Linked DNA regions of Homo sapiens. The protein of the gene in region 1 interacts with the protein of each later gene in a pairwise test. Each region holds a gene or a part of one and is shown in the gene's direction. Other genes may lie near its edges. The genes, in order: KRTAP5-9, P2RX4, SLC25A10 and ZBTB24.

Region 1 (5,925 bases):
CGAACATGACTGACAAATGGCCCGTGACACAGCCCTCAGGAGGTCCTGAGAGCAGGTGCCCAAGAGGTTTGGGGTGCAGCTTGGTTTTATATATTTTAGGGAGACATGAGACTTTAATCAAATACATTTAAGAAATACTAAGGCCTAAACTCTGTTGTTGTTTTTTTTAATCTTGCTCAAATTCCTATCTAAGGGGTCTGCGCATGCCCTACAAATCATAAACTCTCAACAGACAGGTTTTGTTTAGCCCTAAATATTGTGACTTACTTTCCAACCCGACTCTGGCATAACATTATGAGACAAGGAAGAAAATCAAAATACTTTACCCCAAAACATGTTTCTTTGCTGTATTTTGAAATGGCCCTGCAGAGCGTCCTTTGTGGGGGAAAATTTGGATCTGCAAAGAATCTCTATTAACATAGCTAGATCTTTTTCTTCCAGACCCTCCCAGTCCTAAAGAGATTAACTAAGGTCTGAATAGGAAACATTTGTCATCTATTGTCTCTAAGGGCAGCCACTATCAGACTTCAAAAGAACTTTGGTCTCCACAATCTTTATCTTAACTTGAACTTTCCCTTCCTATCCATCCCAGGTCTTTAGACAAACTCAACCAACCGTGAACCAGAAAATGTTTAAATTTACCTATAGCCTGGAACCCCCTCACCCCCCATCCCCCACCACCCGCTTTGAGTTGTCCCGCCTTTCTGGACCAAACCAATGTAATTTTGAAATGTATTTGATTGATGTCTCCTGCCTCCCTAAAATGTGTAAAACCAAGCTGTACCATGACCACCTTGGGCCCATGTTCTCAGGACCTCCTGAGGGTTGTGTCTCAGGCCATGGTCACTCATATTGGGCCCAGAATAAATCTCTCTTCAAATATTTTACAGAGTTTGACTCTTTTTGTCGACATTACATTGGTTTGGTCCAGAAAAGTGGGACAACTTGAAGGGTGGGGAGTGCTTCCAGGCTATAGGTAGATGTAAAAATTTTCCGGTTGACAGTTGGTTGAGCTTGTCTAAAGACCTGGGATCAACAGAAAGGAATGTCTGGGTTAGGATAAAGGATCATGGAGACCCAGGTTGTTATTTGCAGAGGAAGCCTTTAGGTAGCAGGCTTCAGAGAGAAGAGGTTGTGAGACGTTTGTTATCGGACTTAAAGTCTGTGTGGATGTTAATGCCAGAGAGGTAGAATGAGGCATGTCTGACCCCCACTGCCCATCATAGTGTCTCAGGTTAAATTTTAAAACAGCCCTGGCTGAGGAGGAAGTCCATTCAGATGGTCGGGGAGGAGGTCTTAGAATGTTATGTTTGGTTAACCGGGAAACCTTGGAAGCTGAGTTCCTGGCTACGGGGGGATGGGAAGCTGGACTTGCGCCCTTCTCCTACTCCCTGGCCAGCCATGACCCAGCTCCCTCCCCTCAGGGAAAACAGAAACCAATTCTGTGGAGACTGCACTGAGGAGATCAGTGTACCCCTGACATTGCCCCCTCCTTCTTGATAGGAGATCCACCACGGAGAGGCCCTGGCCATTCTACGGAAGAGGCGCAAGGAAGTCTTCTGAGTCCGCTGCTTCACCTTTTGACATCAGAGGGCCAAAAGCTCCACCCTCAGATCAGGCTAACACCTCTGGTTTTTGCACATAGAGAGGGGGTGAAGCTGGATTGCGCATATGCCTGGTTTTGGGTCTGCAGTTGGTTCCTGCTGGTGGGTTCGTGGTCTCGCTGACTTCAAGAATGCACCCATGGACTTTCACGGACCTTCGCAGTGAGTGTTACAGCTCTTAAAGATGGCACAGACCCAAAGAGTCAGTGGCAGCAAGGTTTATTGTTTATTCGCGAAAGGACAAAGCTTCCACAGCGTGGAAGTAGACCCGAGTGGGTTGCCGCTGCTGGCTGTGTGGCCAGCTTTTATTCCCCTATTGGCCCCGCCCATGTTCCGTTTCTGTCCTATCAGAGTGCCTTTTTTTCAATCCTCCCTGCGATTGGCTACTTTCAGAATCCTGTGCAGATTGGTGTGTTTTACAATCCTCTTGCAAGACAGGAAAGTTCCTGATTGGTGCATTTTACAATCCTCTTGTAAGACAGAAAAGTTCCCCAAGTCCCCACGGGACCCAAGAAGTCCAGCTGGCCTCATGTCTCAGTTTCTCCTCTTATCAATATTCATGTCCCTCCCACAGCTTATTGAATATGCATATTCAGCCACCCCCACTCAGTGTAGATCTCTGCTTTATTCTTCCCTCCCTCCAAGTGTCTGTTTCCAGCTTCCTACCAGAGGCTGCGCCTCCCAACCAGTCAGAACAGCCACACTCAGCCCGCAGCACTTTATGAGAAGTAAAGCGCTCCTTTCCAAATTGACGACCTCGTCCTTCTTCAGTTAACACCTCCCTCTCTCAATGACGATGATGGAGCATGTCCAGGTGTTGGTGACACAGCTACATGGCTGCGTGTGGGATAAAGTCGCTGCCCCTTCAGAACTCACACCCCCCTGGAGTGGGACACACACCTCTAAGAACAAACAAGGATGAGAGCAGAGCCAGCTTGGCATCGTGGGAATCAATAAATGAAACAGAAAGTGCAAGGTGGTGGGGGTAGCTATCTCGGGACGGGGTGTCAGAGGTGGATCTGAGTTGGGCAGACAGGAGGGACGCAGTCCAGGGCGGTCCTGGGTGAGTCTGTTCCATGTAAGGAACTGCCAGCACACAGGTCGTAAGGAGGAGTGCGGTGTGGCCCCGGCACCAATCCAGGGCTGGATGAAGAATGATTGAGGCAGTCTGAAGATGACACCAAGTCATTCTCCTCCCACGGAGAGGTGGACTTTCTCTTCTCTCTGCAATCTGGGCTGGCCTCAGTGACTTGAGGAGGGAGAAATACTCTAGGATTCCTAGGCTGGGTCATAAGGCACCTTCTAGCCTCTGCTCGAGTGACCTCCTAGGAAGTACAGCTGCCCTGAGCCCACCATGCTGTGAGGAAGCCCAAGCCAGCCGTGGGAAGAGGCCGTGAGGTGGGGGAGGGGAGGGAGATCTGTCCGGCCTCACCTGTTGTAGCCATCCCATAGGTGTGTGAACACAGCATCTTGGACAAGCCAGCCCCAGCTGACATAATTTACAGAAAAACCAAGGAACCCTGCAGACAGCCGGAACTGAGGTCCCAAAATACAGCCCAGCCAAGCCATGCTGCCATCGTTAGCCATTGGTACCTTCCCAATTGAGACCCCACAAATCATGCGGCCTGTGCCACCATCCAGTGCCGGATCTGAACTACTGATCCACTGAGCTTTGGGCTGATTGGTTCTGCAACGATGGGTGGCCAAGGCCACGGTCAAATCCAGCTGGAGAGGTGGATGGGGCCAGTGTCAGGGGTTTGGATTTCACCCCAAGTCAGCTGAGGCACACTGGAATGTCGTAAGCCTGCACATCCACTCATCACACATTTTAACCGCATCTGAGTGTGGACCGTACCGATGGGTTCCTGCACCTGCAGCCTCCACACCATTGCTGGTGCCCTGCCTCCTAGCTGGAGTATCCTTCCTGTCTCTTGGCTGCTCTTTGTACCCATCATGGTCCCCCTACCACCCTCCAAGTTCTGCTCCAAGCTTTGTTTTCCTCCAAGAGAAGAACCTGTCCAGACAATAGTTTCAAAGCAGCGGGAAGCTCTGCTCACGTGTCCCCAAGGACCATGCTGTGTGAAATTCCCTTCTGTAATCACAGAGCCCATTGCCCTGGCCTATTCCTGGTCCAGGAATAGGGAGGAGGTAGACAGAGGATGCCTCCTTCCCCACTGCTGAGAACCCTGCCATCCTCAGCCACAGTTGCCACAGAGAAGATACCACATCCCTGGGGGAATCAGCAGGAATCAGGTAGAGAGTGGCACTGCTCTGGGGAGGGAGGGCGTCTCACAGCATCAAACGTCAAAAACCCACAACATTGACCCAGTCCTGCCAAGACGGAACCCTGCATGAGCATGGGGGATGGGGAGTTGGGGTGTTGCAAAAGACGCAATACATGAATGATCTCAGGTAATTCTCAGGCAACCCCCGGAGGCTGGTGTTGCTAGCACCCCTCTGCAGGAGAAGAAGCTGGGGCTCGGGAGCTGACTGGATCTGCTCAAAGGCCCAGGAAGAATAAGAGTTAGGAACTGGGACAGACCTTGAGGAAGCTGCACTTCCTCCTGAGGTGAGCCAGCGTTGGAGCTGTTTTTCCTTTCAGTATGAATTCCACAAGGAAATCATCTCAGGAGGAAGGGCTCATACTTGGATCCAGAAAATATCAACATAGCCAAAGAAAAACAATCAAGACATACCTCCAGGAGCTGTGTAACAGCAACCGGAAAGAGAAACAATGGTGTGTTCCTATGTGGGATATAAAGAGCCGGGGCTCAGGGGGCTCCACACCTGCACCTCCTTCTCACCTGCTCCTCTACCTGCTCCACCCTCAATCCACCAGAACCATGGGCTGCTGTGGCTGCTCCGGAGGCTGTGGCTCCAGCTGTGGAGGCTGTGACTCCAGCTGTGGGAGCTGTGGCTCTGGCTGCAGGGGCTGTGGCCCCAGCTGCTGTGCACCCGTCTACTGCTGCAAGCCCGTGTGCTGCTGTGTTCCAGCCTGTTCCTGCTCTAGCTGTGGCAAGCGGGGCTGTGGCTCCTGTGGGGGCTCCAAGGGAGGCTGTGGTTCTTGTGGCTGCTCCCAGTGCAGTTGCTGCAAGCCCTGCTGTTGCTCTTCAGGCTGTGGGTCATCCTGCTGCCAGTGCAGCTGCTGCAAGCCCTACTGCTCCCAGTGCAGCTGCTGTAAGCCCTGTTGCTCCTCCTCGGGTCGTGGGTCATCCTGCTGCCAATCCAGCTGCTGCAAGCCCTGCTGCTCATCCTCAGGCTGTGGGTCATCCTGCTGCCAGTCCAGCTGCTGCAAGCCCTGCTGCTCCCAGTCCAGATGCTGTGTCCCTGTGTGCTACCAGTGCAAGATCTGAGGCTCTAGTGGGAAACCTCAGGTAGCTCCTGAAGATCTGTGCTTTCCAACAAGTGACTACCCTTGAAGCACATCCCCTTCTGGATCTGAAAAGAGCCCTTGGCTCAGGGCGTCTTTTTCCAGCCCCTGAGGAAATGGAATGAACCACTCCCTGCCCATTCCCTATAAGAATATCCCAAGACCCAGGCAATTTTGCCCCTCTTTCCCACATGCCCCCATATGTCTGAGCCAAACTGCACTGGGGGCTGCCCTCATGCCAAGCAAGAGCCTGGAATTCCCCTTCTTGATAATTCCATGGGAGACAGCAAACCCTTCTTTCCTTTGCCTGCCAGGAGCTTCACGACATTTGCAGATGGATGTCCTGCAACCCAAATGATCACATGTATCTATGGAAATCCAAAATGCATCTGGGTGCAGCACTAAATAAATTCTCCATCCCTCAGCCTTGGTCTCACTGACTCTTTTCTTCCAGCCTCTGTCTCATTGGCAAACTGGCCACATGTCCTTCCCCTCCTCCCTGATAGCTTATTGCTCCCACTGCTGTAACAGTGTGCCAGGCCCAGCTCCCATTCCAGAAACAGTTGTTGAACTGATTAATGAAGGAACCACTAGCAGTATGTATGAATGAATGAAGACGAGGAATGAATGAGTGAATGAGTGAGTATCTCTCATTAGTACACAGGGAGTCCCAGCTGTATCTCAGTGGGATTCAGTCTGTCTTGGTTGGAATTTGGACTCCTACTTCTTCCCCATGGGAGGATATGTTTGGGAGAGAAGGAGAACTTTGCCCTCAGTGCCTAGGAAGGGATGTAATGGGTGCTCTCTGGGTCCAGCCAGTCCCCAGTTTGTGGGTCAAGCCAGGAGATGGGGAAGCGAGACTAGAATGAGCTGTGTCCCTGAGATGCTCTGTAGGACAACACTGGAAACTGTGCTGCTTCAAGGATCCAAGACGGTGTGGCTGAACACAGG
Region 2 (7,957 bases), on another chromosome or scaffold:
GGTTAAAGAGACAAGGTCAGATGCCAAACATAGCTTTTCTTTTCTTTTTTTTTTTTCTTGATACGGAGTCTCGCTCTGTCACCCAGGCTGGAGTGCAATGGTGCGATCTCGGCTCACTGCAACCTCCCAGGTTCAAGTGATTCTCTTGCCTCAGCCTCCTGAGTAGCTGATTACAGGGATTACAGGCATGCACCACCATGCCTGGCTAATTTTTGTATTTTGAGTAGAGATGGGGTTTCTCCATGTTGCCCAGCCTGGTTTCGAACTCCTGGCCTCAAGTGATCCACCTGCCTCGGCCTCCCAAAGTGCTGGGATGACAGGCGTGAACCACGGAGCCCCGCCCAGAACATATCTTTTTAATTCTCTGGGGAAATCCTAGAAAAGGAATATCTTGGTCCTACGGTAATTTCTATGTTTAACATTTTGAGGAACTGCTGTTTTCCAAAGCAGCTGGCCCATTTTACATTCCCACGAGTAAAAAGCAGCTGGACCATTTTACATTCCCATGAGTAATGTGTGAGGGTTCCAGTTTCTCCACATCCTTGCCAGCTTTTTGATTGTCCATCTTTTTAATTATAACCATGCTAGTGGGGAGGAAATGGTATCTCACTGTGGCTTTGATTTGTATTTCCCTAACGATAATGATATCGAGCATCTTCTTGTGTTTATTGATCTCATGTGTATATCTTCTTTGGAGAAATGTCTATTCAGATATGTTTGCCCATTTTTAAATAGGGTTGTCATGTTATTGGTGAGTTTTAAGAGTTCTTACGATATCTGAAATACTAGATCCTTAACAGATATAGGATATGTGAATATTTTATCATTCTGTGGGTTTTTCCCTTTCTTGATGGTAACTTTGAAGCACGAACTTTTCAGTTTTGACAAAGTAGTCCAATTTATCTATTTTTTTCTTTTGTTGCCTTGCTTTAGGCAACAAAATCTAAATCTAAAAAACCACTGTCTAATCCGAGGTCACAAAGATTTGCCCCTATGTTTTCATCAGAGAGATTTATAATTTTAGCTCTTATATGTATGTCTTTGATCCATTTTTAATTTTCTCTCTTTCCTTATTATTTTTATTATATTATTTTTTTTAAGACAGAGTCTCACTGTGTCACCCAGGCTGGAGGGCAGTGGCACAATATCAGCTCACTGCAGCCTCCGCCTGCTGGGCTCAAGCAATTCTCCTACCTCAACCTCCCAAGTAGCTGGGATTACAGGCATGCACTACCACACCCGGCTAACTTTTGTATTTTTAGTAGAGATGGGGCTTCACCATGTTGGTCAGGCTGGTCTCAAACTCCCGACCTCAAGTGATCCACCTACCTCAACCTCTCAAAGTGCTGGGATTACAGGTGTGAGCCACACCTGGCCAATTTATTTTTTTAAAAATTTTATGTAGCTGGGACTACAACTACAGGTGCGTGCTACCATGCCCAGCTAATTTTTGTACTTTTTGTAGAGATGGGGTTTCACCATGTTGCCCAGGCTGGTCTGGAACTCCTGAGCTCAAGTGAGCCACCCACCTCGGCCCCCCAAAGTGCTGGGATTACAGGTGTGAGCCACCGCATCCCGCCTTCTTATTTATTTTTGAGACAGGGTCTCACTCTGTCACCCAGGCTGGAGTGCAGTGGCACAATTGCAGCTCACTACAACCTTGACCTCCTAAACTCAAGTGATCCTCCTGCCTCAGCCTCCCAAGTAGCTGGGACCACAGGCATGCACCAGCATGGCTGGCTAATTTTTAAAGTATTTATAGAGATGGGGGTCTCCCTATGTTGTCCAGGCTGGTCTCAAACTCCTGGGCTCTAGCAATCCTCCCAACTTAGTCTCTCAAAGTGCTGGGATTACAGGAATGGGCCACCATGTCTGGTCAATAAAGTTATTTTTTAAAAAGAGATAATCCAAGAGCAACAGTGTAAACAAAATAACTTTTCCAAATCATTTTTTAGGATCAGCTTCTTTGGTCAGGCCTAATGATGTTACCAACTAGTAATTTATAAAAACTTGCATTTCTACATTTTTCTTAACTGACCCCATTCCAAAACACAAGCAAACCATCTAAATTCAAGATTTGTGAGGTTGGGACTAACTCATTACTATAGGGTAAGTATGAATGAAGGCTGGAAATGTGTTTTGATTGCTGCCATTATTTTTTATTTTTATTTTTTCTGAGATGGAGTTTCACTCTTGTCGCCCAGGCTGGAGTGCAATGGCGTGATCAGCTCATGGCAACCTCCACCTCCCCGGTTCAAGCAATTCTCCTGCCTCAGCCTCCTGAGTAGCTGAGATTACAGGCATGCGCCACCACGCCCAGCTAATTTTTGTATTTTTAGTAGAGACGGGGTTTCTCCATTGTTGGTCAGGCTGGTCTCGAACTCCCAATGTCAGGTGATCCACCCACCTTGGCCTGCCAAAGTGCTGGGATTAAAGGTGTAAGCCACGTGCCTGGTGTTTTTTGGGGTTTGTTTGTTTGTTTTGAGATGGAGTCTGTCACCCAGGCTGGAGTGCAGTGGCACAATTTCAGCTCACTGCAACCTCCGCCTCCCAGGTTCAAGCAATTCTTCCTGCCTCAGCCTCCCGAGTAGCTGGGATTACAGGCACCTGCCATAAGGCCCAGCTAAGTTTTTTATATTTTCAGTAGAGATGAGGTTTCACCATGTTGGCCAGGCTGGTCTCCAGCTCCTGACCTCACATGATCATCCGCCTGCCTCGGCCTCCCAAAGTGCTGCAGTTATAGGTGTGAGCCACCGTGCCCAGCCATGTTTTGATTCTTAAGGAAATGATTTTTAAGTCCCCTTCCAATGAGGATTTAGCAATGGAGTTTTCTTCTTCTACAGATAATTTGAGGCTTCCCAATTGCACCAAACTCCATTTGGGCAGATACCTCACCTGTCCACTCCATAGCCCTAGCATCAAGAAAAGTGCCAAGCACACAACAGGCACTCAGTAAATTTCTGTCAAATGAATGAATAAAATACCACCACCTTTTCCTGAGACCATTTTGGACCAAGGCTGGCATGGGCATCTCTGTTCCTCCCTCTAACTTAAGAATTCCATCTCTTAGAGGCAGATGCTGCCTGTTTTCTGCAAATTTTATTATTCACCTTTCTATATTTGGAAAAACAAGTTGGTGTGGCTTACTTAGGAATCTCATATCCAGGAAATGAGCTAAAAATGTTGTATCAAAGATTATGCATAGGATCCACAAACTAAGAAGCAAGCAGATGAGAGCGGTTAGAGACATCGTGGTATATTTTCCGGAAGAAATGGTCCATGGATTAAAAATTGTCATTATGATGAGTCTGCAGTAACACAGAAACCACGTAGTGCGAATCAGAAAATGAAAAGCACAGCCATTGACTATGATTACAAACCAAAACTTTATACCAATTACCTGTTGGAATTTATGCTGCATGAAGGCAGGATATTTTGCTTGTCCTGTTCACTGGACAGTACTTGGCATAAAGGATGTGCTTATGAATATTTTCTGGGAAACTAAATATAACATTCACCTGTGAAAACACATCTGGGCCAGGCGCAGTGGCTCACGCCTGTAATCCCAACACTTTGGGAGCCCGAGGCGGGTGGATCATGGGAGGTCAGGAGCTGGAGATCAGCCTGGCCAACATGGTGAAAACCTGTCTCTAATAAAAATACAAAAATTAGCTGGGCGTGGTGGCGGGCACTTGTAATCCCAGCTACTCAAGAGGCTGAGGCAGGAGAATTGCTTGAACCTGGGAGGCGGAGGTTACAGTGAGCCGAGATCGCGCCACTGCACTCCAGACTGGACAAGAGTGAAACTCCGTCTCAAAAAAAAAAAGAAAAAGAAAAAGAAAAAACGTATCTGAAGGGAATGAACAAATACACATGCGGAAAATTGTATTCATGGGGTAGAACGGTGGCTGTTTCCCCCCCTTTCACTATTTTCTCTCCTAAAGTTGTGATAGCATTTTCTCAGTGGAAAGGATGACCACAGAATTATCTCCCCTGGGCTGCAACTAAGGAAGTATTTGGAGTGAGAATGCGACCAGGCTTCAAATCCAGGAGGGGTATTTTACAGGGCGTGTGGCTCTCACCCAGGGCTCACAGGACACCTGATATTTAGGCTGTTCCCCAAGAGGCTAAGGACAGCGCGGCCCCAGCTCCCCCAACCACAGCTGCCCAAGTTTAGGAGCCCGCACTCGTGAGCGATGGCTACTCCGCACAGCCCCGGGGTCCTCTACGGAAATCCCTGGCACCTATCAGTACCCCTAAGGGAGGTCGCTCGTTACCCCTCACTTGAACTCTGTCCCAAATGGGAGGTCACTCTCTCTTCGCGGACCCCATCTTCCCCGAAAGGGTCTCTTGTTCTCTCTGGCCCTCCTGAGAAGGTCATTACTCCCCAACTCGCCTTTTTTGTTGTTTTTTGGTTTCTGGTTTATTGAGGCAGGGTCTCGCTTCATCTCCCAGACTGGAGTGCAGTGGCGCGATCACAGCTCACACGGCAGCCTCTACCTCCTGGGCTCAAGCGATCCTCTCACCTCAGCCTCCCTGGGACTACAGGCGAGCGCCACTACGCCCGCTTTTTTTTTTTTTTTTTTTTTTTTTTTGTATTTTTGATAGAGACGAGGTCTCGCTATGTTGTCCAGGCTGGTCTCTAACTCAAGATTCCTCTCACCTCGGCCTCCGCAAGTGCTGGGATGACAGGTGTGAGCCACCGCCCCCGGCCCCTCGCCCGCCTTTTGAAGGAGCCTTTCGTCCTCAAGGGCGAGGCCACTCCCCCCCCGCGAGTTCCATGCCCCCTAGAGGGTCATCGTTCCCGACGGGGAGGTGGCGCCCTCCCCCGGGCCCCGGGCCCCGACCGCCCGTGCTGCCTCCTTCCGGGCCCTCCTCCGCGATGACGGCGCCGCCAGCAGGCCAGGCGGACTGGGCGGGGCTCCGAGCGGGGACTGGGACCCAGACCGACTAGGGGACTGGGAGCGGGCGGCGCGGCCATGGCGGGCTGCTGCGCCGCGCTGGCGGCCTTCCTGTTCGAGTACGACACGCCGCGCATCGTGCTCATCCGCAGCCGCAAAGTGGGGCTCATGAACCGCGCCGTGCAACTGCTCATCCTGGCCTACGTCATCGGGTGAGCGTGGGGCCGCGCGGGGGGCGCGGCGGGTGCTGCCCTCGCGTCCGCGCCGTGCGGCGGCTCATCCTGGCCTCGGTCACCTGGGCGAGTCCGGGAGCGGCGAGCCGAGGCGGTGACACCTTCCCTGGGCCCCAGCCGCCGCGCCGGGGCCCCGGGGGCGGGAGGCTGCTTGCTGCTGTTTTAAAACCACAGCCTGGGCCAGGCGCGGTGGCGCAAGCCTGTAATCCGAGCACTTTGGGAGCCCGAGGCGGGACCATCGCCTGAGCCCAGGAGTTCGAAACCAATTTGGGCAACATCGTGGGACCCCGTCTCTGCAAAAAATTAAAAATCATCCGGGCCTGGTGGCGCGCGCCTGGGGTCCCAGCTACTCAGGAGGCTGAGGTGGGAGGATCGCTTGAGCCCAAGAGGCTGAGGCTGCAGTGAGCTATGATCACACCACTTAACTCGAGCCTGGGAGACAGTCCGAGACCCGTCTGTTTACAAAATAAATAAAGGCAAAGCCTGGCTAGGCTGTTACCCTCTCCTGCCTGACCCCCCATAGTGCCCCTTGGCTGTAGGGGCTTCGCCCTGAACGTCTCAATCTTCGCTCTCCACTTCCCATCCTGCTGATTTGCTGACAAAACCAAAGCTTGGAATTTCCGCTTGGTTCCTTCTGGGTGGGTGGCTTTTGGTCATTTCTTTTGATCACTATGCGGTGTCACTATGTGGTAGTAGCGAGGTCAGACTGTAGCGAGTGTTTAAAGTTTGCTTCCTTTGTTTTCTGGGCTTGTGGGGCTTTTTGTGGTACCTGCCCTAGCCTAGTCAGTCATTCCCCATGCTGCCCCCTTAGGCTAGAGATGCCCTACCGCCCTCAGGCCTCGCTGAATGTGCCATTGTACTTGAAGGCACCTGTTACTTTTTTAATTTTTTTATTTTTTTGAGACGGAATTTCTCTCTTGTCGCCCGGGCTGGAGTGCAATGGCACGATCTCGGCTCACTGCAACCTCTGCCTCCCGGGTTCAAGCAATTCTCCTGTCTCAGTCTCCTGAGTGGCTGGGATTACAAGTGCCCGCCACCACGCCCGGCCAATTTTTGTATTTTTTAGTAGAGACGGGGTTTCAGGCTGGTCCTGAACTGACCTCAGGTGATCCGCCCACCTCAGCCTCCCAAAATGCTGGGATTACAGGCGTGAGCCCCCACGCGGGGCTGGCACCTGTTACAATTGAATACAACGCGAGAGAGAAGATGATAATTACCTTGCCACCTGGGGCCACTTTAAAGGCTTACCTGGGGTGTTCTGGTGTCTACAGCTGCTGGGCTGACACGTATTGCCTAGTGCAGTGGTCTCCAAACTGCACATTGGAACCATCTGGAAATCTTTGGCTCCCATCCCCAGACCCTTTTTTATTTTTTTGATGGAGTCTCCCTCTGTCGCCCAGGCTGGAGTGCAGTGGTGCAATCTTGGCTCGCTGCAACCTCCACCTCCCTGGTTCAAGCGATTCTCCTGCCTCAGCCTCCTGAGTAGCTGGGATTACAGGCACCCACCACCATGCCCGGCTAATTTTTGTATTTTTAGTAGGGACAGGGTTTCGCCATGTTGGCCAGGCTGGTCTCGAACTCCTGGCCTCAGGTGATCCACCCGCCGCAGCCTCCCAGAGTGCTGGGATTACAGGCGTGAGCCACCGCGCCCAGACGCATCCCCAGACCTTCTGATTTAATTGCTGCAGAGTATGATCGGCTGCCCAGGTGATTCTCATGTTCAGCAACGTTTCGGAACCAATGAACTGTGTTTCCCAAGTTTACCTGATCATGGAAGACTCATCTGAGGAATTGTTTAAAAGTAACAGATCCCCCCGTCTTTGGGGTGAGGTTTGGAATCTTAACACTGCCCAAGGGAAGCCCAAGCAGGTTTGGCTTCCAATATCTGTCAGCAGCAGCAGTAGATACAGACAGTATTCAAGAGGATGGCTTTCCAGGTGCAGACTCAACATCAGAACCACCTGGCCCACACCCAGATTTGGACTCATTGGCTCACACCTGTAGTCCCAGTGCTTTGGGAAGCCAAGGTGGGAGGATTGCTTGAGGCCAGGAGCTCAAGACCAGCCTGGACACAAGACCAGCCTGGACAACATAGCGAGACCCCATCTCTAAGAGAAAAATAAAGTTTAAAATGGTAAATTGTACTGATGGAGCAGTGCAAAAAAAAGAATTTTTTTTTTTTTTTTTTCTGAACACGGTGGCTCATGCCTATAATCTCAGCACTTTGGGAGGCCGAGGCGGGTGGATCACCTGAGGTCAGGAGTTCGAGACCAGCCTGGCCAACATGGTAAAACCCCGTCTCTACTAAAAGTACAAAAAATTAGCCAGGCCTAGTGGCTAATGCCTGTAATCCCGGCTACATGGGAGGCTGAGGCAGGAGAATCGTTTGAATCCAGGAGGCGGAGGTTGCAGTGAGCCCAGATTGCGCCACTGCACTCCAGCCTGGGCAACAAGAGCAAAACTCCATCTCAAATATATATATATATATATATATATATATATATATTTTTTTTTTTTTTTTGGAGACTCACTGCTAGCCAGTTAACTGAACTCACATCCCTGGTTGGACCTGAAGCATTTGGGGGCAGGAGCTCCCCTGCAGCTTTTTGCTTTTGGCGTTTGCTGCTAGTGGGAGGATCAGTGCACATCTACCTTAGGGTACCTGTAAAATTACAACTGCGGAAAATATCCATAGTGGTGTTGCACTGTATGGTAGCCACTAGTAACTTGCACCTGTTGAACACTTAACCGTTCCTACTCTACACTGAGATGTGCTATAACCTTAAAATACACACTGGATTTCAAAGACATAGTACAGAAAAA
Region 3 (6,256 bases), on another chromosome or scaffold:
TACTGGTGGGGAAGCTGAGGCCCAGGGAGTGAGAAAGCAGGGTGCAGCTCTAGATTTGTGAACTGGCTCAGCCGCATGCTGGCACAGTGGCCTTGGGAAGGCCCCTCAGGGTCCCTGTGGCCCCTCGGGCTGAGGGGGATCCCTGGCTGGGCCGGGTGGCGAGGCTGAGGGGTGTGGGGCGTGCCCGTCCCTCCAAGCCAGGCCCTTCTCCCCCAGATGACCTACTCCCTGACTCGGTTCGCCATCTACGAGACTGTGCGGGACCGTGTGGCCAAGGGCAGCCAGGGGCCTCTCCCCTTCCACGAGAAGGTGTTGCTGGGCTCCGTCAGCGGTGAGCTGCCGGGCGGGAGGGGGAGGGGCGCGGGGTGGTCAGGTCGGCCGAGGACGCCGTGTGTCAGCACGGCTCATCTCTGGGGTTTGTGTCACCGCAGGTTTAGCTGGAGGCTTCGTGGGGACGCCCGCAGACTTGGTCAACGTCAGGTTGGTGTTCCCCCACCCCACCTGCAAGGCCAGGGGCTTTCTTGTCCCCAGACATGCCAGGGCCTGCCAGGGCTGCTTGCAGGGTGGGGTCAGCCTGGAATAAGCCACTGAGACCCTGGTGTCCTGGGCATAGGAGGGTGGGTGTCCCTGAGCCCCGGCGTGCCCTGTCCTGTGGGCCCCGCTGACCAGCGTGAGCTCCCCTGTGCTGCCAGGGCTGCCCATGCCCCTCGGCCCGCCCGCCCCTCCCGCCACCTGCTTCTGTTTCAGGATGCAGAACGACGTGAAGCTGCCCCAGGGTCAGCGGCGCAAGTGAGTCATGGGCGGCCTTCTCGGGGTGGTTGAGGTGCAGGAGGCTCGGGCGGGAGCGGACCCCTGGCTGCTCTGCCGTGACCCAGCTGAGGCTCCAGCAGGCCGAGGTGCCTGCACGGTCCATGGAGGGTCCTGACGGCTGTTCTGGACTCGGGGGTGTCACTCTGCGCCCCCAGGACCTTTGGGTTCTTCCTGTGGGGAGAGCCTTGTTGGATTGGGGGCTGGGCCTGTTTGCACCCCAGGGTGGTGAGTGCGGAGGCGAACGCCCCAGGCATGGAGAGAGCGCATGCAACAGAAACGCCCGAAGGAGGCGCTGCCTCCCTGCCCAGCTCAGGGCAGCTGTGCCCTCCTGCCACGGCCTGGGGTCTTTCCAGGGCCCGGGGTCCGCTCCAACTGCAGTGTGAGCCACTTCCCCCGCCCCTTCCAAGGACCCCTGGGGAGTTCTGGCTTCTAGCTGTGCACACAGACTGTGTTCCCCCAGGACCCCGGGGGCTGGCGGGCAGGAGGCCTGCATGCTAGGAGCGGTGCCCAGCCAGGGACTCTGTTGGAAACGATGGAACCTCCTCCCTGAGGGCCGGGCGGGGCGGGCGAGGTGGCTGTGGGACGTCAGGACCAGCTTCATGTTCCCAGGGAGAGATCTTCAGGCCCATGAGGCCTCTGCTTCCTCGAGAACCCCCGGCCTGCCTCGGGGCCTGGGAGGACCCTCTGTGGGAGCCGGTGGTCAGGGGGAGTCTCATGTGGTCATTCTGTGTCCCCGGCAGCTACGCCCATGCGCTGGATGGCCTGTACCGCGTAGCTCGTGAAGGTGAGGGGCAGGTGCTGTGCACAGGCAGGGTTCTGGGGGGCAGGCAGGGTGGGCAGCGCTGTAGAAGACTGGGCGCTGAGGGATTTGGGCCAGGTGCCTGGCCTCACCCCTTGCCTCACCCCTTGCCTCACCCCTTCCTTGTGCAGAGGGTCTCAGGAGACTGTTCTCGGGTGCAACCATGGCATCCAGCCGAGGGGCCTTAGTCACTGTGGGCCAGGTAGGCCTCCTGCGTGGGGTGGGTGTGGGCAGTGCCTGTGACCACTGACCTCCATCTTCAGAGGGGCCATAGAACAAGGCACTGGGCGCCAAAACCCTCCTGGGGAGCCACCAGCTGTGACCTTGTGGGGCAGGGTGGGGGGCACGGGTGGGTCAGGGCTGCAGCCTGTGAAGGACCTCGGGCAGGTGCCTCCCCTGTCTGGGCCTCACGGACGGACAGACGGAGCAGGTGCTTGGCCATTGCCAGGTGGTGTCGCCTGGGGCCCTGTGTGCTTTCCCCAAGCTGGGGTCCCCCCTACAGCCCTGACCGCCCTTGTGCCCCTGCAGCTGTCCTGCTACGACCAGGCCAAGCAGCTGGTCCTTAGCACCGGGTACCTCTCTGACAACATCTTCACTCACTTTGTCGCCAGCTTTATTGCAGTAAGTGGCCGGCATGGCTAGGGTGGGCGTCCCTGGGCCGGCCTTGGGCGCTGAGGGCACCCAGGATGGGGCGAGGGCTGGGGGAGGCGGGGGCCTTGGGCATCTGGCAGTGCCCCCTGGGGCTCATAAGTGGGGTGCCAGGGCTTTGGGAGCTCATGGGTCAGCCTGGTGCCCCCGCCAGCATGTTCCTGGCCCGCCCTAGGAGTCAGGTGGAGGTTCTGGCACGTGGGTGGGATTCGGCGATGGTGCCTGGCGTACCTGACAGGCCGCTGGTGACGAGCCCCCTCCTCAGGGTGGATGTGCCACGTTCCTGTGCCAGCCCCTGGATGTGCTGAAGACTCGCCTGATGAACTCCAAGGGGGAGTATCAGGTGAGTGGGGCCCTGCCTGTGCAGTTGGGCTGCACAGCCCAGCGAGTCCCCTCACCTCTCCGGGGGGTGGACACTCGCACTGGGGACCCGGGGAAGGGTGTCCCTCCCTTCTAGTTGCCTGTCTCTGCACAGCACTTGCCTTGGGAGAGGGTTGTGCCTTTGAATGCCTTTGCCTTGTTTTTGTTTTTAGAGAAGACTTCTTGGCCCGGCGCAGTGGCTCATGCCTGTAACCCCAGCACTTTGGGAGCCTGAGGCAGGCAGACTGCTTGAGTCTAGGAGTTCAAGACCAGCCTGGGCAACATACTGAAACCCTGTCTCTACCAAAATTACAAAAATTAGGGGCCAGGTGCGGTGGCTCATGCCTATCATCCCAGCACTTTGGGAGGTCGAGGCAAGCAGATCACCTGAGGTCAGGAGTTCAAGACCAGCCTGGCCAACATGGTGAAACCCCCTCTCTACTAAAAATACAAAAAATTGGCTGGGTGTGGTGGCGTGCGCCTGTAATCCCAGCTACTCGGGAGGCTGAGGCAGGAGAATCGCTTGAACCTGGGAGGCGGAGGTTGCAGTGAGCCGAGATCACACCATTGCACCCCAGCCTGGGCCACAAGAGTGAAACTGTCTCAAAAAAACAAAACAAAACAAAATTGGTCAGGCTTGGTGGTGCATGCCTGTAGTTCCAGCTACACAGGAGGCTGAGGTGGGATAATCCCTTGAGCCCAGGATGTCCAGGCCACAGTGAGCCGAGATTGCACCACTGCATTCCAGCCTGGGTGACAGAGTGAGACTGTCTTAAAACATTTCTTTTCGGCCAGGCACGGTGGCTCACGCCTGTAATCCCAACACTTTGGGAGGCCAAGGCGGGCAGATCACAAGTCAGGAGTTGGAGACCAGCCTGACCAACATGGTGAAACCCCGTCTCTACTAAAAATGCAAAAAAATTAGCTGGGCCTGGTGGCGCACGCCTGTAATCCCAGCTACTCAGGAGGCTGAGGCAGGAGAATTGCTTGAATTCAGGAGGCGGAGGTTGCAGTGAGCCGAGATTGCACCACTGCACTCCAGCCTGGATGACAGAGCGAGACTCTGTCTTAAAAAAACAAAAAACAAAAAAAAACACATTTCTTTTCTTTCTTTTTTTTTTCCCCTCATTGCAACCTCCACCTCCTGGGATCAAGCGATTCTCCTGCCTCAGCCTCCCAAGTAGCTGGGATTACAGGCGCCCGCCACCATGCCCGGCTAATTTTTCATATTTTTAGTAGAGACAGGGTTTCACCATGTCGGCCAGGCTGGTCTTGAACTCCTGACCTCAGGTGATCCGCTTGCCTCGGCCTCCCAAAGTGCTGGGATTACAGGCACGTGCCACCACTCCTGGCTAATTTTTGTATTTTTAGTAGAGACAAGGTTTCGCCATGTTCGCCAGGCTGGTCTTGAACTCCTGGCCTGAAGTGATCTGCCGCCTCAGCCTCCCAAAGTGCTGGGATTACAGGTGTGAGTCACTGTGCCCGGCCAAAAACATTTCTTTCACAGATTAACAGAGGTGGTGCCGTTCATGGCAGTCTGTGCCTCATAGGTGCTCTGGGTCTCCTGTCTTGGGCCCCCGCCAACTCCATGGGGCTTCCACGTTTGCAGAGCCCATAGCTCTGTCCCTTTTCTTCTCCCTGACGCTGCCGTGCTGCATCCCTGATTCTCATGGTTCTGTTCACAGCCCCCTCTGCCCACTGGACCCCGGGCTGCACCCTCGGGCCCTGGTTGTACCGCATGAGCAGGCAGGGTGGCCGTTGACCTGGCTGGTGCCTGCAGACCTGTGGTCACCTGTTACCAGCCAGCAGCCGCCGCTCACACCCACACCCACACCCACACCCCACATTGAGAATGCCCAGGCCACCGTGCCTGGCTGGTGCCTGGGAGGGGATTTTCGTTGCCTTTTGGGTGAGAAGCAGCCTTTTTGATTGTTTCACTGCGTTTTCTGCAGGGCGTTTTCCACTGCGCCGTGGAGACAGCGAAGCTCGGGCCTCTGGCCTTTTACAAGGTGCAGTGGTGGCGGCAGTGGCGGCTTGGGCAATGGGGAGCGGGCCCCTTCGGGCTCTGTGTCTCTCATTTTCCCTGTCTCCCTCCAGGGCCTCGTCCCAGCTGGCATCCGCCTCATCCCCCACACCGTGCTCACTTTTGTGTTTCTGGAACAGCTACGCAAAAACTTTGGCATCAAAGTGCCATCCTGACCAGCCGTGGGAATGGCTGGGCTGCCAGGCCAGACACGCTAGGTTCTTCCAAAGAGTCCCAAGCCCAGCACCTGCTCCTGGGGCCACGACCTCCCTGGCCGTGGCCACCCGTCCTCCGCAGCAGGCCCCTGCTGTCCCCCCACCTGCTGGCTGAGCTCCTCCTGGCCTCGTCCCCTCTCAGCTGTAGCTGCACCACCCCCGCTCTGGCTACCAGGCTCTCCCGGCTGGGCACTGCGTGGCCTTGCCCCTCTCCCGCTGGCAGCTCCTCAGGGGAACAGGGGCTACCAGAGGCTGATTTCTCCCCTCTCCTGGGCCAGGGGAGGGGTATTATCCCTGCCTCCTGCCCCCGATGCCCAAAGCAGCATCTTCCAGCACTTTCCATCGAGGACTTGGGTGGCAGAGTGTGGGTGCAGCCTGGCTGTTGCTCACCCAAGTGCTAGCTCTGCACTTCGTGTCTGCTGAGAGCAACCAGACCTTCCATGTCCTCGGGCAGCTGCAACTCCCCGCGAGACCCCGCAGCTGGGTGGGATGAACAAGCAACGCAGACCACAAGCGAGTGCCTGGGAGGGAGTGGCCCAGGGTGGTTCTGGAGCCATTGTGGGTGAGGGTCGAGGGCCACCGAGGTCCCGCGCACCGCTGCCTGCCCTGCAGTGGCTTTAACAGTTAGTTTTGCCAAAGCCTCTCCACTCACCAGCAGGCGGTCTCTGTCTTCAGGGATTGTGCCTGCGTCCCTCGGGCACCTGGGCCCCCCCGCTTGGCTCCCTGGGGGAATGGCCCAGGCGGGCCGCGGTTCCTCCTTAGGGCCTTCTCCCCGACAAGGAGTCCGACGGGGCGGATGCTGCATCCTCTGCCTCCCTGGTCGCTGGGCTTCACCCCACCTGGGAAGGGCAGTGTGCTCTGTGGGGGCTGCAATCAATAAATGCCGGGAGCTGCCACATCTGTTCCTGCCTGCGCTGCCTGCCCGCTGGCTGCCTTGCTGTCCAGACCAGCAGGACCCCCTGCACCCCCTAAGGAGGACCGGGCCAAGGCCTTTTGGGGAGGAGCCAGGGTCCTCGCTGTGCATTTGGATGAAGGAATTGGGGAAGTAGGAGGAACCAAAACCGGTGTGGGGGGAAGGGAACAAGACGGTGAGGCTGGGGTTGAGGGTCTCAGACACAGGATCTGGCTCTGTCATTCAGACTGGAGTGCAGTGGCACGATCTTGGCTTACTAACCTGGGCCTCCTGGGCTCAAACCAGTCTTCTACCTCAGCCTTCCAAGTAGCTGGTGCTATGGGCGTGCACCATCATACCTGGCTAATTTTTGTATGTTTTTGTAGAGTTGGGGTCTCACAATGTTACCCAGGCTGGTCCCAAACTTCTGAGCTCAGGGGATCTGCCCATTTTGGCCTCCCAAAGATGCCCTTTTTTTTTTTTTTAAGACAGGGTCTTACTGTGTCACT
Region 4 (7,027 bases), on another chromosome or scaffold:
TTAAGTATAGGGACTGGGGCTTAAGTCTTCTCCTGTGATCCAGCAGTATCTGGTGCTGTGGTTCTCAGCCTGCAAATTGGAATCACTTAGGGAGCTTCTAAAACTACCAGTGCCTAGACCTCCACCCCAGAGCTTCTGATTTAGTTGTCTGGAGCCTTGGTGCTTTTAAAAGCTCCCTAAAGACTTTAGCTACAGATAGGTTGAAGAGCTTGAATTCAGGTACTTCGAACAAAGTGGATACTTGAGAAATATTTGTTGAACTGTAATAGGTTATATTTTAGCTTTTTTTTTTTTTTTTTTTTTTTTTTTGAGATGGATTCTCGCTCTGTCACCCAGGCTAGAGTGCAGTGGCGCGATCTCGGCTCACCGCAACCTCCGCCTCCCGAGTTCAAGTGATTCTCCTGCCTCAGCCTCCTGAGTAGCTGGGATTACAGGCACACGCCACCACGCCCAGCTAATTTTTTGTATTTTTAGTAGAGACGGGGTTTCACCATGTTGGTCAGGCTGGTCTCAAACTCCTGACCTCGTGATCTGCCTGCCTCAGCCTCCCAAAGTGCTGGGATTACAGGCGTGCGCCACTGCGCCCAGCTGGCTATTTTTATCAAAAATTTTATGTGCATAGTTTAGAGTTAAATCATTATACAAGACTTAAGAAAAAGCATGTAGGATCGTTCTTCCCTTATGTCCTCAGTACAGACAGTCCCCGACTCACAATGGTTCAATTCATCTTTACAATAGTGTGAAAGCAGTACATGTTCAACAGAAACTGTACTTTGAATTCTGAGTTTTGATCTTTTCCCGGTCTAGTAATATTCAGTATGATCCTCTCATGCCATGCCGGGCCACACAGTCACGTGGGTAAATGACCAGTACTCTGCATTTGGTGCATTCATACAGTACTCTGTATAAGTGCATTTTTCCTTATGATATTTTCAGTATGATGGGTTTGTTAGATGTAGTCCCATCATAAGTCAGGAAGCATCTGTATTCTGAATTTTGCAGCCCATCACTTTAGTATGGGTCTGTTTTCTTCCATCTGGGTAGATAACAGGTAGATTCATAAGGTTTGGAAACTGTCTTTCAGTTCTGGAAAATCTTGAGTTATTTCATAGATGATTTCTCCTCTCTGTTTTCTCTGTTCTCTCTAACTTTATTTTCTCTTATATTTTCCATCATTTTTGGCCCCACCCTCTGGGGGATTTCCACTTTGTTTTTCAGCCCTTTGAGGTTTTCTGTTTCAACTCTTATTTTTTTCCCCCTTTAGGAGCTCTTTTTTTTCTAAATGTTTTAATTTGAATGATCTTTTTATTTCACAATGTATTATCTTACCTCTATGAGCATGTTAATGATAACAACATTTTCCTCACTGGAGGCAAGTTGCTTTTTTTTTTCTTCTTGCTTGTTTGTCTGTCACTATTACAAAAGGCTCTCCTTGAGTGCCTGGTGTTTTTTTTTTAAATCATATGTAAGGGTGGGTTGCTAAAAGCTACTGGCAATGCTGCATGTGTGGAGAGAGCCTGTATTTTATTTATTTCTTAGGCTGTTGCCCAGGCTGGAGTGCAATGGCGTGATCTCCGATCACCACAACCTCCGCCTCCTGGATTCAAGTGATTCTCCTGCCTCAGCCACCCAAGTAGCTGGGATTACAGGCACGCACCACCATGCCTGGCTAATTTTTTTTGTATGAGAGAGTCTGTAAAACTGTGACCTTGTTCCCAGATCACACTGAGAGTCAGGCTGCTATTTCTCGTGGCCCAATAATGAGATGCAGATGAATTGGAGAGGAAGAGAGTTTTTATTTCTGTAACCAGTTATAGGGAGAAGGCCTGGAAATTATCGCCAGACCAACTCAAAATTACAGAATTTTTCAGAGCTTATATACCGCCTAAGCTGTATGTCTGTCTGTAAGTGTGCATTCCTCTAAAGACGTAGGTGATTAACTTCTTTTAATCTATATCCAAGGTCTGCGTCCCAAAGACCTTCTTCTGGAGCCTCAGTAAGTTTACTTAATCTAAATGGGTCTAGGTGCTGGGGTGATTACCCTTATCTTCTGCTAAATCACGGAGATTTGGGGAGTTCCTTCAGATCCCCAGTAAAACTTGTTTAATCCTAAGTGGGCCCTGTTAAGAATTCCTTCGTTATTTTGTCATGCTTTAAGGCCCAGGAGAAGCCTAGGGGAAACTCTTGGTGGGCTTTTGTTACATTCCAGCCTTTGTTTAAGGGCACTGGCTTTTAATGTTTAACTTAACCACTCAGTCAGTACTGAAACAGTTGTATGGAGGCCTGTCATAACCTCACTGGAGGTGGTGTGGCTGTGCCCCATGTCCTTACTGGTGCCTGGCTTCCACATCTTTGCTCTCTCACCTTGGACCTCTCATGTTCCACTGGAAGACGCTTCTGCTCTCCCACTTGGAGGCACTAGGCCTGGCTGCTGGCCTGTGTCTAGGACAGGATGGGGAAGAAGGAGTGGGGGAGTCTCATCATCCCAGATGGAAATGTTGACTTACTCTCCCTGTGGTGATCCCAACTCAACTGTGCCTAGAAACTCCTAATCCAAAGACCCCTTTTTCTTAACCCTCCTCAGTGAACACTCTCCATTCTCTTTTGGGGGAGGGACAGTCTCCTGGCTGTGTAGAGTGGAAGATTTGATCAGGGGTCTAAGCACCTTTGAAACAGACTTTCATTTACCCTCCCTCACCCCTGTTTCCAGAGATAGCAGGTGCCACCAATTCCTGAGCCTTAGGAGATTGTGTCTTAAAAATTAGGTTGTATTGGGCTGGGTGTGGTGGCTCATGCCTGTACTCCCAGCAATTTGGGAGGCCGAGGCAGGAAGATTGCTTGAGCCCAGGAGTTGGAGACCTGCCTGGGCAACATAGTGAGATCCCATCTCTAAAAAAAATTAAAATTACAATTAAAAAATTAGCTGGGTGTAGTGGTGGCACATGCCTGTGATCCCAGCTACTCAGGAGGCTGAAGTGGGAAGATCATTTGTTCCCAGGAGGTTGAGGCTATAGTCAGCTATGGTAGCGCCACTGCACTCCAGCCTGGGTGATAGAGTGAGACCCTGTTACAAAGGAAAAACAAAAAATTAGGTTATGTTAGTGCTACTCACTGCTGGCTTCAGATTCATCTGTTCAGCTTCCAAAATTTTATTGCTGATGTCTCTTGTGTTCATTGTTGGCCTTTTGGATGTGTGCCTTTTAAGAAAAATCCTTTATTGTTTTTTTAATTTGGGAGAGACAGAAAAATGTGTGGATTCTTACTTATACCATGCTTCTGGGGCTCTTCTTCCAGGGGAGCGACCTTTCAAATGTAATGAGTGTGGAAAAGGCTTTGCCCAGAAGCACTCGCTACAGGTCCACACCAGGATGCACACAGGCGAGCGGCCGTACACCTGCACCGTGTGCAGCAAGGCTCTGACCACCAAGCACTCACTGCTGGAGCACATGAGCCTGCACTCAGGTAGTGGGGCTTGCCCAGAGGGCCAGCTTCACCAGATTCCCATTCCCCAGGGTGGGCATTACCAACACCTAAATGGTGTTTTCTCAGCCTAGTATCATTTCCAACGTGGTGTCATTGAAAGACAGGATTTTGCATCTGTCTGAGTGCAGTTTAGAGTTCTGCACGGATCATTAAACTAGAGCTTATAAACTGGCTGCTGGGAGTTTAGTGTGCAAGCATGTTTTATTAAACCACCAAAGTTTAGAATTGTTTTACTTTGAACGCCTTTCGGGGAAACTTAAATTCTCCAGTTCTACCCCAGTCTCCAGTACTCCCGATTGCCTTACATACCTTTGCACATTTATGTTTCTGTGGTAGATTGAAGGCTTCTGGGTATGTAAACAAGTCGCTTGTATCATTTGTAGAAAATGGGGACCTGGACCCACTGTAGTATTTACCTTATTAGTGAGCATTCCAGTTCTTTATAATTTTTTACATGTTTTAGTGTTTTGGTTTTTTTGGCAGGACAGAAGTCTTTTACCTGTGATCAATGCGGAAAATATTTCAGCCAGAACAGACAGCTAAAGAGCCATTACCGAGTTCATACAGGTACGATAAAGTGAGAACATTTAGATTGGGGGGGAAGAAATGCAAATAAGAATTGTTTCTGAAACATTAGGTTTATATTGTTCTGCTCTTAGCACATATCGTTCACATAGGGTATTTAGGGAAAAGTGCCTTAAGAGTCTAAATTACATGTTTTTATGTTATTGTCCGCCACCATGTGAATTATGTTTTATTTGTATACTACAGTTTTGGTGCCACACACAGAAACCCTACAGAATTGGCATCTTTCAAAAGTGCCACTTGCACAGGGGAGCTTCAGTGAATGGTTGTTAGTGGTGCCTGGGCAGAGACATCATCATCCCATGGCTGTCAGCCCAGGCTTTCTCTCCCCTGGTTCTACCTGTTGTCCTTTTTCTTTCCTGCCAACTGATAAGAAATGAATGTGGGTTACGAGTGTCATTTGAGGTCATTTGTGGCCTCAGTCACACCAATACTTTGAGGAAAAAAGGAGAGACTACATTTAGAATTGGAAGGATCCTAGCTCTCTTGGAGGAGGCAGTGAGTTGAGGTGCTTAGGAAAATATTAACAGTTACCAAATTAATGAAAAAATTTTTGTGGTTAAAGTACTATATTTAAAGTGATTATTTTTCAGGGAAGTGCTTTAACACAAATCACTGAAGAAAAGGCAGGGAGAGCATGTATGCACTGACACTTTTTTTATTGTTGCGACAAGGCCACTCATTACCGGAATGCAAAGACTGCCATCGCAAATTCATGGATGTGTCTCAGCTAAAGAAACATCTGCGAACACACACAGGTAAAACTCCATCTCGTCTGTCCCCCCAGTACACGGGATGTTTTCAGGAGAGTGAAGAATGAAGTTCTCTGAGTGCCCTGCTAAGCCTGTGTTTGGAAATGTTTATTATAAATTGGATGGGAGTTGTGTAAGAAGATAAGTTAAAAGTTGGAAGGCAGAATGTTGTCAGCACTGTCTTTGGGGAAATCACATCTCTTGTAGATGAGCAAAATGGAGATCACTTACTGAGGACTATTCGTATGTCACAATTCATTTAATACCACAGAATAGTGAGTCTGAGTCTGGTTCTATGTTTCACTCTTAATTTACTTCAGCATTGAAGGTGATATCAAGACTTTTTTTTTTTTTTTTTTTTAAAGATAAGGGCTTGTGCTGTCATCCAGGCTAGAGTGTAGTGGCACGATCACAGCTCACCACAGCCTTGACCTCCTGGGCTGAGGTGATCGTCCCACCTCAGCCTCCTGGGTAGCTGGGACCACAGGTGCAAACCACCACACTACCTAATTTTTTATTTTTTAATTTTTGTAGAGATGGGTCCCACTATGTTGCCCAGGCTGGTCTTGAACTCCTGGGCTCAAGCAGTCTTCCTGTCTGAGCCTCCCAAAATGCTGAGATGACAGGCATGAGCCACCATACCCAGCAAGATAAATTTTTTTTTTTTTTTTTGAGACGGAGTCTCGCTCTGTTGCCAGGCTGCAGTGCAGTGGCACGATCTTGGCTCACTGCAACCTCTGCCTCCCGGGTTCAAGTGATTCTCCTGCCTCAGCCTCCCTAGTAGCTGGGACTATAGGTGTGCGCTACCATGCCCAGCTAATTTTTTTTGTATTTTTAGTAGAGATGGGGTTTTACCATGTTGGCCAGGATGGTCTCGATCTCTTGACCTTGTGATCTGCCCACCTTGGCCTCCCAAAGTGCTGGGATTACAGGCGTGAGCCACTGTGCCTGGCCCAAGATTATTTTTTTAGAAAAGACAGCCAAATGTAACAGACACAAATGTAGCATAGACACTGAGAATGTTTCCACTTTCTCCCCTAGAACCAACACTTAAACTTAAGCAGCACCACCTCCAGAAAAATCAGTTTCAGAGATGACGAGGAGGCAGCATTGATTAGGGCAGGTCAGTTTTTTTATGTAAGATCGGAAAATTGGATCTTTTATACCTTTTGTCAAAGAATGTATGTTAAAAATAAGCCTATTCAGTTTTCTAAGAAAAACTTGCCATTACAGGTTATTTAATAATTCTGTTGTCTACTGGAATTATCTAAATAGCAAATTGATTTATGGTGCTTTGGACTTTTTTTTTTTTTTTTTTTGGAGTCACTGTCTCTGTCGCCCAGGCTGTTGTGCAGTGGTGCTATCTTGGCTCACTGTAACCTCTGCCTGCTGGGTTCAAGCAATTCTCCTGCTTCATCCTCCCGAGTAGCTGGAACTACAGGTGCGCACCACCACGCCTGGCTAATTTTTGTGTTTTTTTTTTGTAGAGACAGGGTTTTGGCATGTTAGCCAGGCTGGTCTCGCTCAAACTCCTGGCTCAAGTGATCCACCCTCCCAGCCTCCCAAAGCGCTGGGATTACAGGCGTGAGCCACTGTGCCTGGCCTGGATGTTGTTTTTTAAATACAAGTTTTTCTTCTTAAATTCAGTAAACATCTCATAGGATATGGATTTTAACACATGTACTGAGCACTTACTGGGAACCAGACATTGTTTTAGGCTTTGAGGATACAGCAGTGAATGAGATGGACAGGCCCCTGCCTTAAGGGGCCAACATTCAATAGGGAAGACAGAGTACAGACAAGTATATAACACATTTGGTGTTGTGAGTGCGTTGAAGAATAAAATGCAAGGTAAGGGGGCGGGATGCCGGAAAGAGAGTTGCTCTTTTATGCATGGACTGGTTTGGGAAGGTCTCACAGATGAGGTGGCATCTTGGATGGAGATGAGAATGCAGTGGGGGAGTGAGCCAGCCGGCCATTGAAGATGTCCAGGAGAGAGCATTCTAGGCAGGGGGAGCCCTGGGCACAGGGCCCTCAGGCAGGAATAAATGTTTTTGACAAGCTGGAGACGTGCTGGGAGGAGCATCAAGGCAGCCAGAGAGCTGGGAGTAGGAAGTCATAGTGTAGGTGGATGTTCTCAATTTAGCTGCATGCTTTTTACCACCTGGGAAGCTTTAAAAAAAAGCCTTGTCCCAGCTGCCAAGATT

The links.
Region 2: the proteins of KRTAP5-9 (region 1) and P2RX4 interact in binary tests that used the Homo sapiens proteins (3 or more experiments, as listed by UniProt).
Region 3: the proteins of KRTAP5-9 (region 1) and SLC25A10 interact in binary tests that used the Homo sapiens proteins (3 or more experiments, as listed by UniProt).
Region 4: the proteins of KRTAP5-9 (region 1) and ZBTB24 interact in binary tests that used the Homo sapiens proteins (3 or more experiments, as listed by UniProt).

The regions. Positions count from the first base shown.
Region 1 is NC_000011.10:71,544,211-71,550,135, forward strand, and holds KRTAP5-9 (keratin-associated protein 5-9), read left to right. Parts: upstream 1-4,209; 5' UTR 4,210-4,447; coding exon 4,448-4,957; 3' UTR 4,958-5,398; downstream 5,399-5,925.
Region 2 is NC_000012.12:121,205,186-121,213,142, forward strand, and holds the start of P2RX4 (P2X purinoceptor 4), read left to right. Parts: upstream 1-4,943; 5' UTR 4,944-4,979; coding exon 4,980-5,113; intron 5,114-7,957. UniProt on the Homo sapiens protein: ATP-gated nonselective transmembrane cation channel permeable to potassium, sodium and calcium. CTP, but not GTP or UTP, functions as a weak affinity agonist for P2RX4.
Region 3 is NC_000017.11:81,715,262-81,721,517, forward strand, and holds the end of SLC25A10 (mitochondrial dicarboxylate carrier), read left to right. Parts: intron 1-216; coding exon 217-331; intron 332-431; coding exon 432-480; intron 481-747; coding exon 748-789; intron 790-1,550; coding exon 1,551-1,594; intron 1,595-1,740; coding exon 1,741-1,811; intron 1,812-2,137; coding exon 2,138-2,230; intron 2,231-2,495; coding exon of another isoform or gene 2,496-2,522; coding exon 2,523-2,600; intron 2,601-2,790; coding exon of another isoform or gene 2,791-2,907; exon of another isoform or gene 2,908-3,083; intron 3,084-4,569; coding exon 4,570-4,626; intron 4,627-4,714; coding exon 4,715-4,816; coding exon of another isoform or gene 4,817-5,256; 3' UTR 5,257-5,751; downstream 5,752-6,256. UniProt on the Homo sapiens protein: Catalyzes the electroneutral exchange or flux of physiologically important metabolites such as dicarboxylates (malonate, malate, succinate), inorganic sulfur-containing anions, and phosphate, across mitochondrial inner membrane.
Region 4 is NC_000006.12:109,473,198-109,480,224, reverse strand, and holds part of ZBTB24 (zinc finger and BTB domain-containing protein 24), read left to right. Parts: intron 1-3,294; coding exon 3,295-3,462; intron 3,463-3,966; coding exon 3,967-4,050; intron 4,051-4,742; coding exon 4,743-4,826; intron 4,827-7,027. UniProt on the Homo sapiens protein: May be involved in BMP2-induced transcription.